Regions from separate parts of the Homo sapiens genome. Here region 2 is linked to region 1. Evidence: fine-mapped expression QTL. Tissue or cell type: cerebellum. Region 1 holds a variant in brackets; the other region holds the start of a gene. All regions are shown on one strand. Distances are between the middles of the regions.

Region 1 (8,106 bases):
AAATGAATTATTCAAAACCTGAAATAAGGTATCAATTGTATGACTTTTAATGTTATGACAAGAGCATTTTGTAATAGGCTCACCTGAGGTCATCTAATTGTTTTATTTCTAATTTCAATTAAGGCCCAGGCAGTTTATAACTCTACAAATTTAAAAGTAAACTTACAGAAAACTACTACGGTAAAATAAATTTTTTCTGTCCAGTCAGTAGAGGTTATCCAAAAAGCTACAGTTTAAATACCCTGTAGGATATTAACCACGTTTATATCTTAGCAATTTTATTTCAGCATTCTTTATTAAACTGACTATATTTCTTTTCTTTATTTTGAGTGTGACAGGGTCCCGTTCTGTCATACAGGCTTGAGTGCAATGGCGTAATCATGGCTCACCACAACCCTGACCTCCCAAGCTCAATCGATCCTCCTGCCTCAGCCCCATAAGTAGATGGGCATGTGCCACTATGCCCAGCTAATTTTTTGTATTTTTTGTAGAGACAACGTTTGGCCATGTTGGCCAGGCTGGTCTGGAAGGCCTGGCCTCAAGCAATCCGCCCTCCTCAGCTTCCCAAAGCGCTGGGATTACAGGCGTGAGCCACTGCACCTGGCCTAAACTGACTATATAAATCCCAATTTCTCATTCCACTATTTTTCAGGACTTTCAAAAAAGTTTATGATATGTATCAATGTCTATTTGTATGAGAATCATGTTTATAATAGCTTGAAAATTATGCAATGACAGAAATACACAAAGACTGAGCAATTAAATTTGCAGGGGGAAAGGAGAATGATCAAGGAAATCTCTATAAATGAGGCTGCAAATTTGATAGCATTTTTTAAAGTAAATTAACAGTTGTCAAAATTTAAAAATTGAGATACTACATTAAAATGAAGATTTCTGGAGCCGGAAGCAGTGGAGAGTGCCTATTAATCCCAGCTACCTGGGAGACTGAGGAAGGAAGATCCCTTGAGGCCAGGAGTTCAAGGCTGTTAAGAGCCATAATGATCATGCCTGTGAACTGCCATTGCACTCCAGACTGGGTAATACAGTGAAACCTTGACTCTTTAAAAAAAAAAAAAAAGGGGGGGGGGGGCTAGGTGTGGTAGCTCACGTCTGTAACCCCAACACGGAGAGGCCAAGACGGAAGGACCGCTCAAGTCCAAGAGTTCAAGATCAGCCTGGGCAACATTGCAAAAAACAAACAAAACGATTTCTGATTCCTAAAAAAAAAAAAAAAAAATCAAAAGATCTGATGACAAGGAAAGATGTCCCAGTGAAAAAGGAAAAAGCATCACACAGGAAAAACAAAGGCAGAAAAATGTAAAAGAATATGAAAGTTCTTTAAAAAAATAAAAAATAAAAAAGACAATCTAGTACAAATATAGTTTAAAAGATCAGATTTGATTTTTTTTTTTTTTTTTTTTGAGACGGAGTCTCACTCTGTCACCAGGCTGGAGTGCAGTGGCGTCATCTCGGCTCACCACAACCTCTGACTCCCTGGTTCAAGCGATTCTCCTGCCTCAGCCTCCCGAGTAGCGGGGATTACAGGCACGCGCCACCATGCCCAGCTAATTTTTGTACTTTTAGTAGAGACGGGGTTTCACCATCTCTACTAAAGGCCAGGAGATTCTCCATCTCCTGACATCATGATCCACCCAACTCAGCCTCCCAAAGTGCTGGGATTACAAGCATGAAGCCACCGCACCTGGCCATGATTTTTTTTTTAATTTTTGAGACAGGATTTCGCTTTGTCACCCAGGCTGGAGGGCAGTGACATGAACACAGTTCATTGCAGCCTTGACCTCCCAGGCTCAAGCTACCCTCCCACCTCAGCCTCCTGAGTAGCTGGAACTACAGGTGTGCGCCACCATGCCTAATATTTGTATTTTTTGTAAAGACAGGGTTTTGCCATGTTGCCCAGGTTGGTTTCACACTCCTGAGCTCAAGTGATCCACCTTTCTTGGCCTCTCAAAGTACTAGGATGACAGGCATAAGCGGTTGTATCTGGTCAGATTTGGCCAGGTGCAGTGGCTCACGCCTATAATCCCAGCACTTTGGGAGGCCAAGGCGGGTAGATCATAAGGGCAGGAGTTCAACACCAGCCTGGCAAAGATGATGAAACCCTGTCTCTACTAAAAATACAAAAAATTAGCCGGGCATGGTGGCAAGCACCTGTAATCCCAGCTACTCGAGAGGCTGAGGCAGGAGAATTGCTTGAACCCAGGAGGCGGATGTTGCGGTGAGCCAAGATGGCGCCATTGCACTCCAGCCTGGGCAACAAGAGGGAAACTCCGTCTCAAAATAAATAAATTAATTAATTAAATTAAATAGCATATATTAAGATGGCAGGGCCAAGAGTGGCGGCTTGCACCTGTAACAGCACTTTCGGAGGCTGAGGTGGGAGGATCACTTGAGGCCAGGCGTTCAAGACCAGGCTGGGCAACATAGTGAGACTCCCCATCTCTACCAAAAAAAATTTTTTAATCAGCAGGACATGGTGGCCCACACCTGTTGTCCTAGCTACTTGGGAAGCCGAGGCAGGAGGATCATTTGAGCTCAGGAGTTCAAAGTTGCAGTGAGCTATGACTGCATGACTGCACTCCAGCCTGGGTAACAGAGCAAGACCCTGTCTCAAAAAAATGTTTTTTTTCAAGATAGGGAAGCAACTCAACAACCCTAGACCTGTGGGATGCAAGGAAGCAACATAATATTCCATGAAAAATATGAGCATCTGAACTTAACCAGTGTTGATGAGGGAAAGGGTTTAGAAGATAGCGGGAAGGGTTTTGAAGAGATCTGAGAAGACATGAAAGGTTATTTTATTATTTTTATCATTATTTGGATGCAAGGTCTCACTCTGTCACTCAGGCTGGAGTACAGTAGTATGAACACGGCTTGCTGAGATGGGAAAATAGGGTCTGGAGGCAGGGAACATTAGGCCGATTCACACTTCAGCTATGACAGGAAATATCCTCTCCATAGGGCATACACCAAGTAAATGACTTTGTAACTTTACTTCACCTCTCCATTCACATAGGGTATACACCAAGTAACCAATGGAAGCCTCTAGAGGGTATTGAAACCCCCACAAATTCTATAACGGTGCCCTTGAGCCCCTACGCTAGGGCCCGCCACCACACTGTGGAGTGTACTTTCATTTTCAATAAATCTCTGACTTCATCCCTTCCTTGCTTTGTCTGTGTGTTTTGTCCAGTTCTTTGTTCAAGATGCCAAGAACCTGGACACCCTCCACCAGTAACACAGCCTCAAACTCCCAGGTTCAAGTAGATGCTCCCATCTCAGCCTCCCAAGTAGCTAGGACTATACAGGTATGTGCCACCCTGCCCAGCTAATTTCTTTTTAAGAGTCGGGGTCTTGCTAGTTTGGTAGGCTGGTCTCAAACTTCTGGGCTCAAGTGATCCACCCACCTCGGCCTCCCAAAGTGCTGGGATTACAGGTGTGAGCCACTGTACACAGCCTAAAGATTATTTTATTAAAGGACTGAATAACCAACTATATAAGGGAGAAAGTGTAGGATAGCTCACAGGTTTCTGGTTTAAGTGACTGGGTAACTGGAAGAATTCTATATGAAACAAGAAGTAGGTGAGGGCTTTGTGATAAGAAAAACTGGCTGAAGCCTAAAAAGCATTCTTTCTCCACTGTGTGAAAGCTTCCCTCCTTCCCTTTGCCTGCTCCCATCTTCTAACAGATTACAAAAAAAAGTAAAATACATTACTGACTTGGGACAACTTACCATACTTGAATTTCTCAAATCAATAAGCCCACTTTAATCAGGCCCCAGTTTAATGCTTTGTTTACTTCCTTCAAGGAAAGATAACATTGAAACCAGCCAATTATCCCACAGAACTGATCTTTATGGTTTCTCTGAATAAATACAGAAATTGATCCTCACAGTCTTAAAACTTGAGAAAGTTCTATTTGTGTTATCTAAGCTCCTTTCTTAGGAAACAAACCATCAGGCCTCCTAGATAGTATTAAGAAGCTGAAACTTACTTAACA[G/C]ATCACTGCAACTGGACAATGAGAAGCCAGAGCCTGCATGATTGCTTAACTGACCACCTGCTGCCTGTTGACCAACTTCTCTTCCTCACCCCTCTCTAATTCCTGTTTGCCCACACATGGTTACATTTCTTCTCTGCTATATAGACCTCTAATTTTAGTCAGTCAGAGATGGATTTGAGACTGAGATGGATTTGAGACTGATCTCCCATGTCCTTGGCTGCAGCACCCAATTAAAGCCTTCTTCCCTGGCAATACCCGTCTCTGTGATTGGCTTTCTGTGCGGCAAGCAGCAGGACCTAGACCAAACCCCTGGTGTTTTGGTAACACCATCCAGCCCAAAAGAGAAAAAGATTTCCCGCTGGCCCTAACACCACCATGACAATTTGGATAAGCAAAACTAACAGGCTTACTAAAGAACCCTATTAATTCAACTGTTCTCAAAATGTTGGGCGTGTACTACAATCAAAGGAAAAAAAAAAAAGTAACTTTTTAAGCCCTATCCTAGACACAGTGAATATGAAAGCCCCCTGGCAGTTTGAACCTCCCCATTATAGCTAGAGATCTTCAAATGATAATCTCATTATGTAATTCCTTTAAAATGTTAAGATTTTCTTCAAGATAATGCCCCAAAGCCTTGAATATCAAGTATTTTATCTCTAGCTCTCATCTCTTTTAATTCATTCCCGCTTTGCCCAACCTTCTCAGTTCCCCTCAAAATGCTTGGCTTTGTCTTTACTCCAGGGCTTTACATATTCTGATCAGTTGCCCATCCCCTTTACCTCCACCGAAACTCCTCTGCTTGTCTCAGCTAACGGTTCATTTCCTTTGAGAACCATCCCTTGACCCCATCCCTAAGACTCTTATTATTTTCTGCATCTGGCACTTAATATAGAATATTGTGCTGTAATTGCTTGTTTACCAGCCTATAATGTATTCCCAACACATATTGAATGAATGCTAAATACATATTAAGCAATCAATAAACAAGAAAGGTAACCACGTCTGGGTGATAGTGCAGTTAATTGTTCTTTACAGAACTCAAAATTAGGCTGGGTGCGGTGGCTCACACCTGTAATCCCAGCACTTTGGGAGGCCAAGGCAGGCAGATCAGGAGGTCAGGAGTTAAAGACCAACCTGGCCAACATAGTGAAACCCCATCTCTACTAAAAATACAAAAATTAGTCGGGCATGCTGGCGTGCGCCTGTAGTCTCAGCTACTCAGGAGCCTGAGTCAGGAGAATTGCTTGAAACCAGGAGGTGGAGGTTGCAGTGAGCCAAGATCGCACCACTGCACTCCAGCCTGGGCAACAGAGCAAGACTCCACCTCCAAAAAAAAAAAAAAAAAAGAACTCAAAATTCTGGAGAAATCCATGAGCTTCCTCTCCCATTAATCTGACCATTGGTAAATGTATAAACCCTCCCCATTTTAAGAGCTTTACTAATAGTAATTTAGAAATAAGCAGAATTTACAGGACAGTTACAAAGGCTAAGAAATCATACGGTTATAAAAAGAAGAATACTTTGTGAAGACAATAAACTTGAAGCTCTGTTTAGGCTCAGGCTTCCTTTTATTCCTCAGAGTAGTTTCTTTAACTCGATCTCTAGTCATATATTTCCAATTGCTTTTGATGTCCCCTTGCAGGTTTCTCAAGTGTTTAACACACAACAGCTACAATACTGAAATCATCTTCCTGCTGCTCCTATTTCTGCTAACTCACAGAATTGCAGTAGCCAAAAACAATACAGCCATTACAAGCAAGAGTCACCACACATTCAGGTCAAAAACCTTAGACTTATGTCGACAAAAACAGTCAAACCCTGTAAAATATTTGAGGAGATTTATTCTGGGATAGATTTATGCTGGGATAGAGAAGCTTAACTCTAAAAACGATGGTCAGGGCAAGCTTCATTGCTGAAGTATATGTGAGCAAAGATTTGAATGAGTGAGGCACCATTATATACAGTTAACTGGAGGAAGAGCATTTAAGAAATAGTAGCTATAAAGCTGAGATCAGAGCTCTACCTCTGAGAAACAGCAAGGAGGCCTGTGTGGATCGCCTAGCAGGAGAGAGGAGGAAAAGATTAAACACAAGATAAGCCGGGCGCGGTGGCTCACGCCTGTAATCCCAGCACTCCAGGCCGAGGTGGGCGGATCACGAGGTCAGGAGATCGAGACCATCCTGGCTAACACAGTGAAACTCTGTCTCTACAAAAAAACACAAAAAATTAGCCGGGCGATTAGCCGGGCGTGGTAGCGGGCGCCTGTAGTTCCAGCTACTTCGGACGCTGAGGCAGTAGAATGGCGTGAACCCGGGAGGCGGAGCTTGCAGTGAGCCGAGATGGCGCCACTGCACTCCAGCCTGGGCGACAGAGCGAGACTCCGTCTCAAAAAAAAACAAACAAAAAAAAAAACCCACAAGATAATAAACAGAGTGGTGGCAAGGGGACAGACTGAGTAGGGCTTACAGATCCTAAGACTCCTTTTAAAAAGCGTTTTAGCTTTACACTCTGAGAACTAAAAGTCACAGAAGCGTTTTGAGAAAAGGAATAAAAGATCACTCTGGCTACCTACTGGGACAGCATTGTGGGGGAGCAAAGGCAGAAGCAAGAAGTTCATTTGCATGGCTACTATGATAATCCAGGTGAGACATGATGGTGGTTTGGACTAGAATGGTGGCAGTGAAGACAGTGAGAAATGGACAGATTATACACGGATTTCAAAGGTACAGCAGCCAACAGGACTTCCTGATGTATTGAATATGGGGTATAAAGGATGACTCCTGGCCTCACCGAGTACTAGAATGGAATAGCTACTGAGGCAGAAAGACTTCAAAAAGAGCAGGTTATGAGAAGAAAATCAGTAAATTGGGCCGGGCATGGTGGCTCACACCTGTAATCCCAGCACTTTGGGAGGCCGAGGTGGGCAGATCACTTGACGTAAGGAGTTCATGACCAGCCTGACCAACATGGTGAAACCCTGTCTCTATTAAAAATACAAAAATTGGCCAGGTGGTCTGGTGGATGCCTGTAGTCCCAGCTACTCGGGAGGCTGAGGCAGGAGAATCGCCTGAACTCGGGAGGTGGAGGTTGCAGTGAGCCGAGACTATGCCACGGCACTCCAGCCTGGGAGACAGAACAAGACTCCATCTCAAGAAAAAAAAAGAAGAAGAAAAGGAAACCAGCAAATTGGTTTGGGGCATTTTAAATCTGAGATAGTTATTATCACATCCAAGAGGAAACATAAAGTAGGCGTCTGGAGACTGAATTCAGGGGAGAGTTAGAGGCTAAATAAGTCATTTAAAAACACTTTGGTGGAGCCTGTCAAAATCTGTAAGAACAACACAACAACAGTATCAATTTTACCTCATAAAATATAACTGGAATGAATATTACCTGATATGATGGTGCCCCTCATCATTCCTGGGTAGCTACATTTTACTATGAAAAAGGTGAGGTTTCCATTACCATTATATCTTCTAGAACTAGATAAGATGGAGAAGAATGGGAGCATTATTCTCCCACACGTCTACAATTCCGAAGTAAGGCAACCAATAGGCTATAGGCAAAGGCCTCAAAGTGCAGCTGTACTGTCATGTGACCAAAGATAAGCGAGTCAGTCTGGAGTGCTTTCAAGAACGTATTTGTAAAATACTTTTCAAAAGGTCTGGGTCTTTCACCTCCGCCAAAGGATATGAAAATGTCTGCTTTAAAACACATCACTTGAGAAAGGGAAGAGGATACAAGATCCCAACTAATGAAAACTTTTTTTTTTTTGAGACAGAGTCTCACTCTGTCTCCAGGCTGGAGAGCAGTGGCGCGATCTCGGCTCACTGCAACCTCTGCTTTCCGGGTTCAAGAGATTCTCCTGCCTCAGCCTCCCAAGTAACTGGGATTACAGGTGCGCACCACCATGCCGAGCTAATTTTTGTATTTTTAGTAGAGATGCGGTTTCACCATGTTGGCCAGGATGGTCTCGATCTCTTGACCTCATGATCCGCCTGCCTTGGCCTCCCAAAGTGCTGGGATTACAGGTGTGAGCCACTGCGCCCAGCATGAAAACTTTTTTGAAGGCTACTTTTTGTCTAATAA
Region 2 (8,106 bases), 100 kb before region 1:
AGGCCTCTCCAGAAAAATGACTTTTCACCTGAATGAAATAAATAAGAAAGCCATGCAGACATCTGAGGGGAAGAGCATTCCAGGCAGAGGAAACAAGTGCAAAGGTCCTGAGGTATGGCTGGAGCAGAGTCAGCAAAGGCAAGAGTGATAGCAGATGAAGCCGCACTCCATGCAAGGGTTGTATAGACCATGGTGAGGACTCTGTCACTTCTGAGATAAAAAGCCACTGGAGAGTTTCAAGCAGAGTGACATAATAGACTCTGGCTGCTGTGTTAAGAATAGAGTGTGGAGCAGTAAGGGTGGAAGCAGGGAAGCCCTTCAGAAGGCTTTTGCAGTAATCCAGGTGACAGAGATGATAGAACTTGGTGGAAGCAGCAGAAGTGGTGAGAAATGGTTATCATCCTAGATGTATTCTTTTTTTTTTTTTTTTTTTTTTTTTGAGACGGACTCACACTCTGTCGCCCAGGCTGGAGTGCAATGGCACGATCTTAGCTCACTGCAACCTCCGCCTCCTGGGTTCAAGCGATTCTCCTGCCTCAGCCTCCTGAGTAGCTGTGATTACAGGCACCCACCACCACGCCCCGCTAATTTTTGTATTTTTAGTAGATACAGGGCTTCACCATGTTGGCCAGCCTGGTCTTGAACTCCTGACCTCACGTGATCCACCTGTCTCGGCCTCCCAAAGTGCTGCGATTACAGGCGTGAGCCACCGCACCCGGCCTGCTGAGGAATTTAATGTGGGGTATAAGAGAAAGAATCAAGAGTGATTTCAGGGTGTTTGGTGTGAGCATCTGGAAGAGTGAAGTTGCCATTCACTAAGATGGAGAAGACTAGGGGAAAAGCAGCTTTGGGAGAGAAAACTCAAAAATCTGGCTCCTAGAGATTGTTGCTCACTTTAAAACCCTTACATCTATTTTAGAACCAAAACAATAGAAATTGAGAAGCTGACTTTAAATTTCATGTGGAAGGCCAGGCATGGTGGCTCATGCCTATGATCACAGCACTTTGGGAGGCTGAGGCAGACAGATCACCTGAGATCGGGAGTCCGAGACCAGCCTGACCAACATGGAGAAACCCTGTCTCTACTAAAAATATAAAATTAGCCAGGCATGGTGGCACATGCCCGTAATCCCAGCTACTCAGGAGGATGAGGCAGGAGAATCACTTGAACCAGGGAGGCGGAGGTTGCAGTGAGCTGAGATCGTGCCATTGCACTCCAGCCTGGTAAATAAGAGCAAAACTCCATCTCGAAAAAAAAAAAAAATTCATATGGAAATTCAAGGGACTGGATAGTCAAAACAATCTTGAAAAAGAACAAGGTTGGAGGACTCACATATCCTGATTTCAAAACACTATGTAGCTACAATAATCAAGGTAGTATGATACTAGCCTGAGGACAGACATACAGATCAATGGAATAGAACTGACAGTCCAGAAATAAACCTTTACATTCATGGTCAATTTATCTCAACAGAGGTGCCAAAACTATTCAAAGAGGAACAGTCTTTTAAACAAATGGTGCTGAAAGAACTGGATATCCACATGCAAAAAGTTGAAGTCAGACCCCCTGCCTCACACCATATTTAAAAATTAACTTAAAATGGGTCAAAGAATGAAATGTAAGAGCTAAAAACTATAAAACTTTTAGAAGAAAACATAAGTATAAATCTTCATGATCTTGAATTTGACAATGTTTTCTTAACTTTGACATCAAAAGCACAAACAACAAAAGGAAAAATAGGCTCGGTGCAGTGGCTCAAGCCTATAATCCCAGCACTTTGGGAGGCTGACGCAGGTTGATCACTTGAGGTCAGGAGTTCAAGACCAGCCTGGCCAACATAGCAAAACCCCGCCTCTACTAAAAATACAAAAATTAGCCAAGCATGGTAGCACACACCTGTAATTCCAGCTACTCTGGAGTCTGAAGCAAAAGAATCACTTCAACCCAGGAAGCGGAGGTTGCTGTGAGCCAAGATCATGCCACCGCATTCCTACCTGGGCGACAGAGTGAGACTCTGTCTCAAAAGAAAAAAAAGGAAAAATAGATTAAATATACTTCAACGAAATTAAAAATCAAGGCACGTCACAGAAATTAAGGAAGGAAGAAAAAAGGGAGGGAGGGAGGAAGAGAGAATGGTAGAAAGGAAGGAAGAAAAAAGTAGGAATGAAAACATAAAACAACATAAACCAACATAAAATACAGAAAATAATGATCCTCAGTCAAGTTCCTTCAGCATTATATTAACCTTTCTTCACTTCTAACCATCTGCAGAAACTGTTTTCCAGATTGTATTTTCCCTCTAAAGCAAGTTTTTAAGGCCGAAAAAAAAAAAAGAACAAGAACAGTGAGTGGAGAATCAACAAATTTAATTAGCAATGATTACAGAAAACTTAAATAGCACACACAACTCTATAATCCCTCTACCCCCAATTCCAACATCTGACTGATCAACCAACCATAAAATGTGAGAATCCATCCAGAAGGAAAGAACAGCTGTTAAGCTGTAGGGGTAAGGACCCTGTGGCAGAAGACCCTGAGGCCATGTGGGCCCAGGTGGCCAGCAGGAGCGGAAAGGCTGGGAAGGCTCCTCAGTCCAGGGCTCACAAGACTCCCTTCGCTTCAGGCCTGACTTTGCTGAACTGGTGATCTATTGGGACAGAGACAGGCTTTGGCAATAGTTACCAAAGCCTGTCATCATATCTGCACCACCACCAGTCCCGACCGGAGGGCCTGGCTGCCAGGTAGTTTTCAGTCTAACTGACAGGAGAAGAGAGAGCCCCTCCCTCGCAGCTAGTCTGCAGTCCAGACCCTCACCAACCGGAGGGCAACCAGGTTAAACAGTTAAACTGAAAGCAAAAGAGGGAGGAATGAACCGGGGGGCGTGCGGGAGGTCGGGGACTTTCCTCCTTTCCCTCCTGGAAAGTTTCCTACCCCTGATGGGCATCCTCCCACCTGGATGCAACCCGGAGGCGATCTGAGACCCTGGCCGGACCTGGGACCGCACCTGGCCAGCACCAGGCAGTTGTCATCACTGGGGTCTGCGCTGAGGGCCTGGGAGAGAAGCCACTCTTCAGGCGGGCTCGGGCGCCTGGAGGCGGGGAGGAAGGGCGGCGCACTCGGACCCCAGCCCTAGGACGGCCCCAGGGGGACGCCTCGCTCGGCCCTCCCGGAGGGACCGGACCCGCCGCGCGCCTCCCGCTCCTCAGGCCCCCTCACCTGGCTCGCCCCGCCGTCCTGTCCCCGCCTGGCTCGGGTCCTCGCGCGCCGCGTCCACCCGCCGCCGGCCTTTTTTGGGTCGTTGGCGGGTATTTTCCGCCTGGCCCCACATCACTTCCCGTAAAGGAGAGCGAGGTGGGGCGGGACCTTCTCTCCTCCACCTCCCGCCTTCTCCTGTCACCTCGGGAGCGGCCCCCGCCCGGCTGGCGGGGGGCGGGGTGCTGTCGCGCTCTCCCCGGCGGCCGCGCCTCCGAGGGGTCCTCTGTGAGCCCCGAAAAGGCCCCGCTCGCCTCCTTTGTCCCAACACTAGTTTCCGCTGCCCCATTCTGGAAGGCGCTACAAAATATAGGAGTGTTTTCGTTTTGGGACACAGGAGGGACATTTACAAACTGCACCAAGGACCGGTGCGCGGCGAGGTGTCGTTTGGGGACTCTCCCCTATTCACCTCCCCAAAAAGCCATGTTCTAAGGGTGTTTTCCACGGCATCAGTTCGCGGTCGCCACCGTAGCAGCCGGAGGTGCCGGGCGTACTCACGCCGGCCCCGCCCGAGGTTCCCGAGTCCGCGCGGCTCCTGAGGCGGCGTCCCAGGCCCGGCCCTGCCCCCGGCTTCCCGCCCCTGCGGCTCCTGGCTTAGGTCGGCCTGGACACGGCGTTTCCGGGGCAAGGGAATGCCCAGGATTCCTGGAAATAACATGGGAGAAAAATAAGTAAAAAATTTCGCAGGAAAAAAATCAATGTAATTCCGGGAGGAAATGGCAAACGGAGTCTCTGCTCACACTGTGTAATTCAAGAATATAAAACCACTGTAAATTTCTAAGAGTGTTAGAGCAATGAGTTTAAAAAGAAGAAAACTACAGTATGTTAAGGAACCGCCTCTGTCGGAAGAAACCTGCGCGCCTTTGCTGCCACCCAGCGGCTCTCTTCTCCCAGCGCCAACGGTGTCGCTCCGGCCTGCGGGGTAGTGAACCTGGGACTGCGTAGGGGGTCAGACCTCGTGGTTCCCACTCAGAGGCAGCCAAGTTCATCCCTCTCAGTGGCCAGGAGGTGTGAACAGCAGCCCTTGGGCCTGTCCCTATGGAGTCTAAGGCAAAGGCCCTTTGAACCAAATGTTTCCACTTCTAAGCAGAGTAAAATGTTGAGAAGCCTTAGTTCAGCTTCCCTTCTGCCTTCTAAGCCGTCTCGCTGACTTGTGTCTACCTCCACCGCAAATTCCAGCTGTCGCAGGCCCACCCGGTCAACTCCATCACCTTTCCAGTCTGTAGCTACTCACAGTTGGCATTACAGCAGTTAGCTTCTCAGGTGGGTCCAATTTACAAAATCACATATAGGATGAACCATATGAAATTACAAACAGTTGGCAATTTCATACATTTGATATAACATTTCCAGGCAAACATAACACAGTAAACTCGGGTTTAGAGATAACAAATGTCCTAACAGGTTGATAACTTCAAGAGCTCTTCCCGTGTGAGAGAAGGGCCATCAGACTGTTGGTGAGGTTAAGAGAGAAAAAGGCCGGGTTAGGTGGCTCACGCCTGTAATCCCAGCACTTTGGGAGCCCGAGGCCGGCAGATCACGAAGTCAGGAGATCGAGACCATCCTGGCTAACACGGTGAAACCCCGTCTCTACTAAAAATACAAAAAATTAGCAGGGCGTCGTGGCACGCGCCTGTAGTCTCAGCTACTTAGGAGGCTGAGGGCAGGAGAATCGCTTGAACCCGAGAGGTGGAGGTTGCAATGAGCCGAGATGGCGCCACTGCACTCCAGCCTGGGCGACCGAGCGAGACTCTGTTTCAAAAAAAAAAAAAAAAAAAAAAAAAAAAAAAAAGGGAAAAGGTAGCCTCATGTTCATGTCCAGAGGAATAGTCCTGGGAATCACTGATCAGCTAAAATCTGGGAAACCAATAATGTAGTAATTGCTAATGGCTGATATGGCACAGGGAAAGCCTGCCTTCAGCTTTCCCCACTCCTGTGGCCAGGCAAGGCTCTCACCAGGAGTATACCAGACAGGAGATCAGAAAACCTAGGATGGTGCTATGGCCCATTCATCACCCATTCATTCACTCATTCATCAAGTCAGGCACCCTATTAGTAAACAAGGTAAACTGGTCCCTGACGTCAGGACTTACTTGAGAGACCATCGAATAAGTAGGCAACTCCAGTAGTGAGATAAGAGCCTCAATAAAGGAAGTTAAAGAGTGTTATTGGAGCACAGATAAATGACACCAAATCAAGAGAAAGTTAAGGATAAACTTAGAATGAATGAGGGCAAGGGGCAAGGGAGAAGAGAATTCCAGGAAAATGGAGCAGAGGGAAGGCCTGGAAGCAAAAGATAGCATTCAACACTGGAGCAACAGGAAGAGGTTCAGAAAAGCTGAAAGACTGAAAGCAATCAGAAAAGAAAATGGAGAAATAACAGAGGCTGTGCGGTGAATAACCCTGCAATGATGATCATGATCATAACTAACATTTCTTGATCATTTACTATGAGTCAGCCAATATGCTAATAGTTTTGACTACATCACCTCATACGTGTCTTACAACTACTTTATGAAGTAGGTACTATTCTTACCTCTGTATTACAGATGAGGAAACTGAGTCCTAAAGCGATTAAGCAGTCTGACCAAGATCATGCAGCTAATAAGTGGCACAGCCAGGCCTAAAACTCAGAACTCAAGTTTTTAATGGTTCTAAGAATGGGTCTGAGAGGTCAATTAGCACGCTGTAATCCAAGTGAGGGATAATAGCGATCTGATTACGGCAGTGGCCATAAGGATGGAGATGAATGGACATATTTGACATATTTAGGAGAGTGAATCAAGAGGACTGGGATGTAGGGGTGTGAAAGAGAGGCAGTAGTCCATGGGGATGCCCAGTTTCTGGTTTGGGCAACAAGAAACCATTAAGCAACAGGAAGAAAACCTAGTTGCAACCAGGAGGAAGGGTGAAATAGGCCATAGTGATGAGTTTAGGACATTTCCATTTTGACACACTAGCACCAACAGAATATCCAAGTGAAGCTGTTTAGTATGTAGTCAAACAGGCCTATCTGAAGCACAGAAAACATGTGCTGTAGCTATTACCCAAAAGGTACTGGAAGGCATTAGAATCAATGAGCTAATCTAGAAAGTGAGCTGAGAGGGCAATAGGCTTGTTACAGAACCCAGATGAACACCCAGCATTTAAGGCATGAGCAATGGAAGTTCAAAAAGGAATCCAAAAAAAGAGTATCCAGAGAGGTAGGAAGAAAACAAGGAGAGTGTTATTACAGAAACTAAGTACACTGAACACATCTCGTGTGTCAGTTCAAAGTCATCTCTACGCCACTTCTTACTGCAGCCACAGAATCGATCACAGTATACCTCTTGCTTCCCACACTGGGGCTTTTCTGACACTGCTACTTGCAACATGGAGAGTTCTGCCTCCAGTTTTCCTAATAGAATTAAAGTGGATGGAATCAGTAAGAATTCATGGATTTTAATAAATAAATATAGATATATGTATGTGTATATGTATGTATTATCTAGCTCTGTCTGCTAAGAGGTCCTAGAAGCAATTATATCAAAGTAGCTACGAGTACACTTAGCACCTGGATGTTGATTTCTTAATATCCCTTTCCAACAAAAGGAACCAATTACATAATATTATATATGGAAAATCCTAAATAAAAAATCTATTAGTGCTAATAAATGAAATAAGCAAAGATGCAAGATACTAGATCAACACATAAAAATCAGTTGCATTTCAATGTATTAGAAATGAACAATTGAAAAGGAAACTTTAAAAGTTCCATTTACAATAATATCAAAAAGAATAAAATACCTAGGCATAAATTTAACCAAGAAGGTGCAGGATTTATACATTGAAAACCACAAACCACTACTGAAAAAAAAAGAAAATCTAAATAAATGAAAAGACATGGCCAGGCGCGGTGGCTCACGCTTGTAATCCCAGCACTTTGGGAGGCTGAGGCGGGTGGATTACCTGAGGTCAGGAGTTTGAGACCAGCCTGGCCAACTTGGCGAAACCCGTCTCTACTAAAAATACAAAATTTAGCCGGGCGTGGTGGTGGGTGCCTGTAATCCCAGCTACTCGGGTGGTTGAAGCGGGAGAATTGCTTGAACCCGGGAGGTGGAGGTTGCAGTAAGCCGAGATCGTGCAACTGCACTCCAGCTTGGGTGATGAGTGAAACTTCTCAGATAAAAAAAAAAGAAAAGAAAATACATTTAATGTTCATGGAATCAAACACATAATATTGTGAAGATGGCTATATTCCCCAGATAGAGCTACAGATTCAACAACATTTTTGAAGAAATGGAAAAGTGTATGCTAAAATGCATATGAAATTGCAAAGGACCCAAAAATTTAAAAAGTTCATGCTTCCTGATTTCAAAATGTACTACAAAGGTATAGTAATTAAAAAAAAAACCTATGGTATTGATATAAAGACATATAGATAAGTGGAATAGGCTTGAGAGTCTAGAAATAAAATTATGCATCTATAGTCAAGATCTTTCAATGGAGAAAGAAGTTTCCTCAGCAAATGGTACTGGGAGAACTGGATATCTACATGCAAAAGAATGAAACTGAGGCCTGGCGCGGTAGCTCACGCCTGTAATTTCAATACTTTGGGAGGCCAACATAGGTAGAGCCCTTGAGCTCAGGAATTCCAGACCCAACTGGGCAACATGGTGAAACCCTGTCTCTACTAAAAATAGAAAAATTAGCCAGACGTGGTGGCTTGCACCTGTAGTCCCAACTACTCGGGAAGCTGAGATGGGAGGATCGCTTGAGCCCAGGAAGCGGAGGTTGCAGTGAGCCAAGATCGTGCCACTACACACCAGCCTGGGCAACAGAACAAAACCCTGTCTCCGAAAAAAAAAAAAAAA

What was found. PIP is the estimated chance that this variant, and not a neighbour inherited with it, causes the effect.
Region 2: it holds the start of RAB27A, and the variant in region 1 is fine-mapped to the expression of RAB27A in cerebellum (GTEx, PIP above 0.99). The same link has a PIP of 0.9 or more in anterior cingulate cortex and nucleus accumbens.

The regions. Positions count from the first base shown.
Region 1 is chr15:55,390,810-55,398,915 of GRCh38, forward strand. All of the region lies in intron 1 of CCPG1 (cell cycle progression 1), which reads right to left. All of the region lies in intron 8 of DNAAF4-CCPG1 (DNAAF4-CCPG1 readthrough (NMD candidate)), which reads right to left. Among named protein-coding and RNA genes, the nearest start is that of CCPG1, 13 kb to the right of the region's middle. The variant G/C (reference allele first, on the strand shown) is at 4,018.
Region 2 is chr15:55,286,499-55,294,604 of GRCh38, forward strand. It overlaps RAB27A (RAB27A, member RAS oncogene family), which reads right to left and starts at 3,315. Exons shown (of 7, transcript NM_183235.3): 1 at 3,218-3,315. RefSeq lists a silencer at 3,003-3,532 and an enhancer at 3,633-3,782.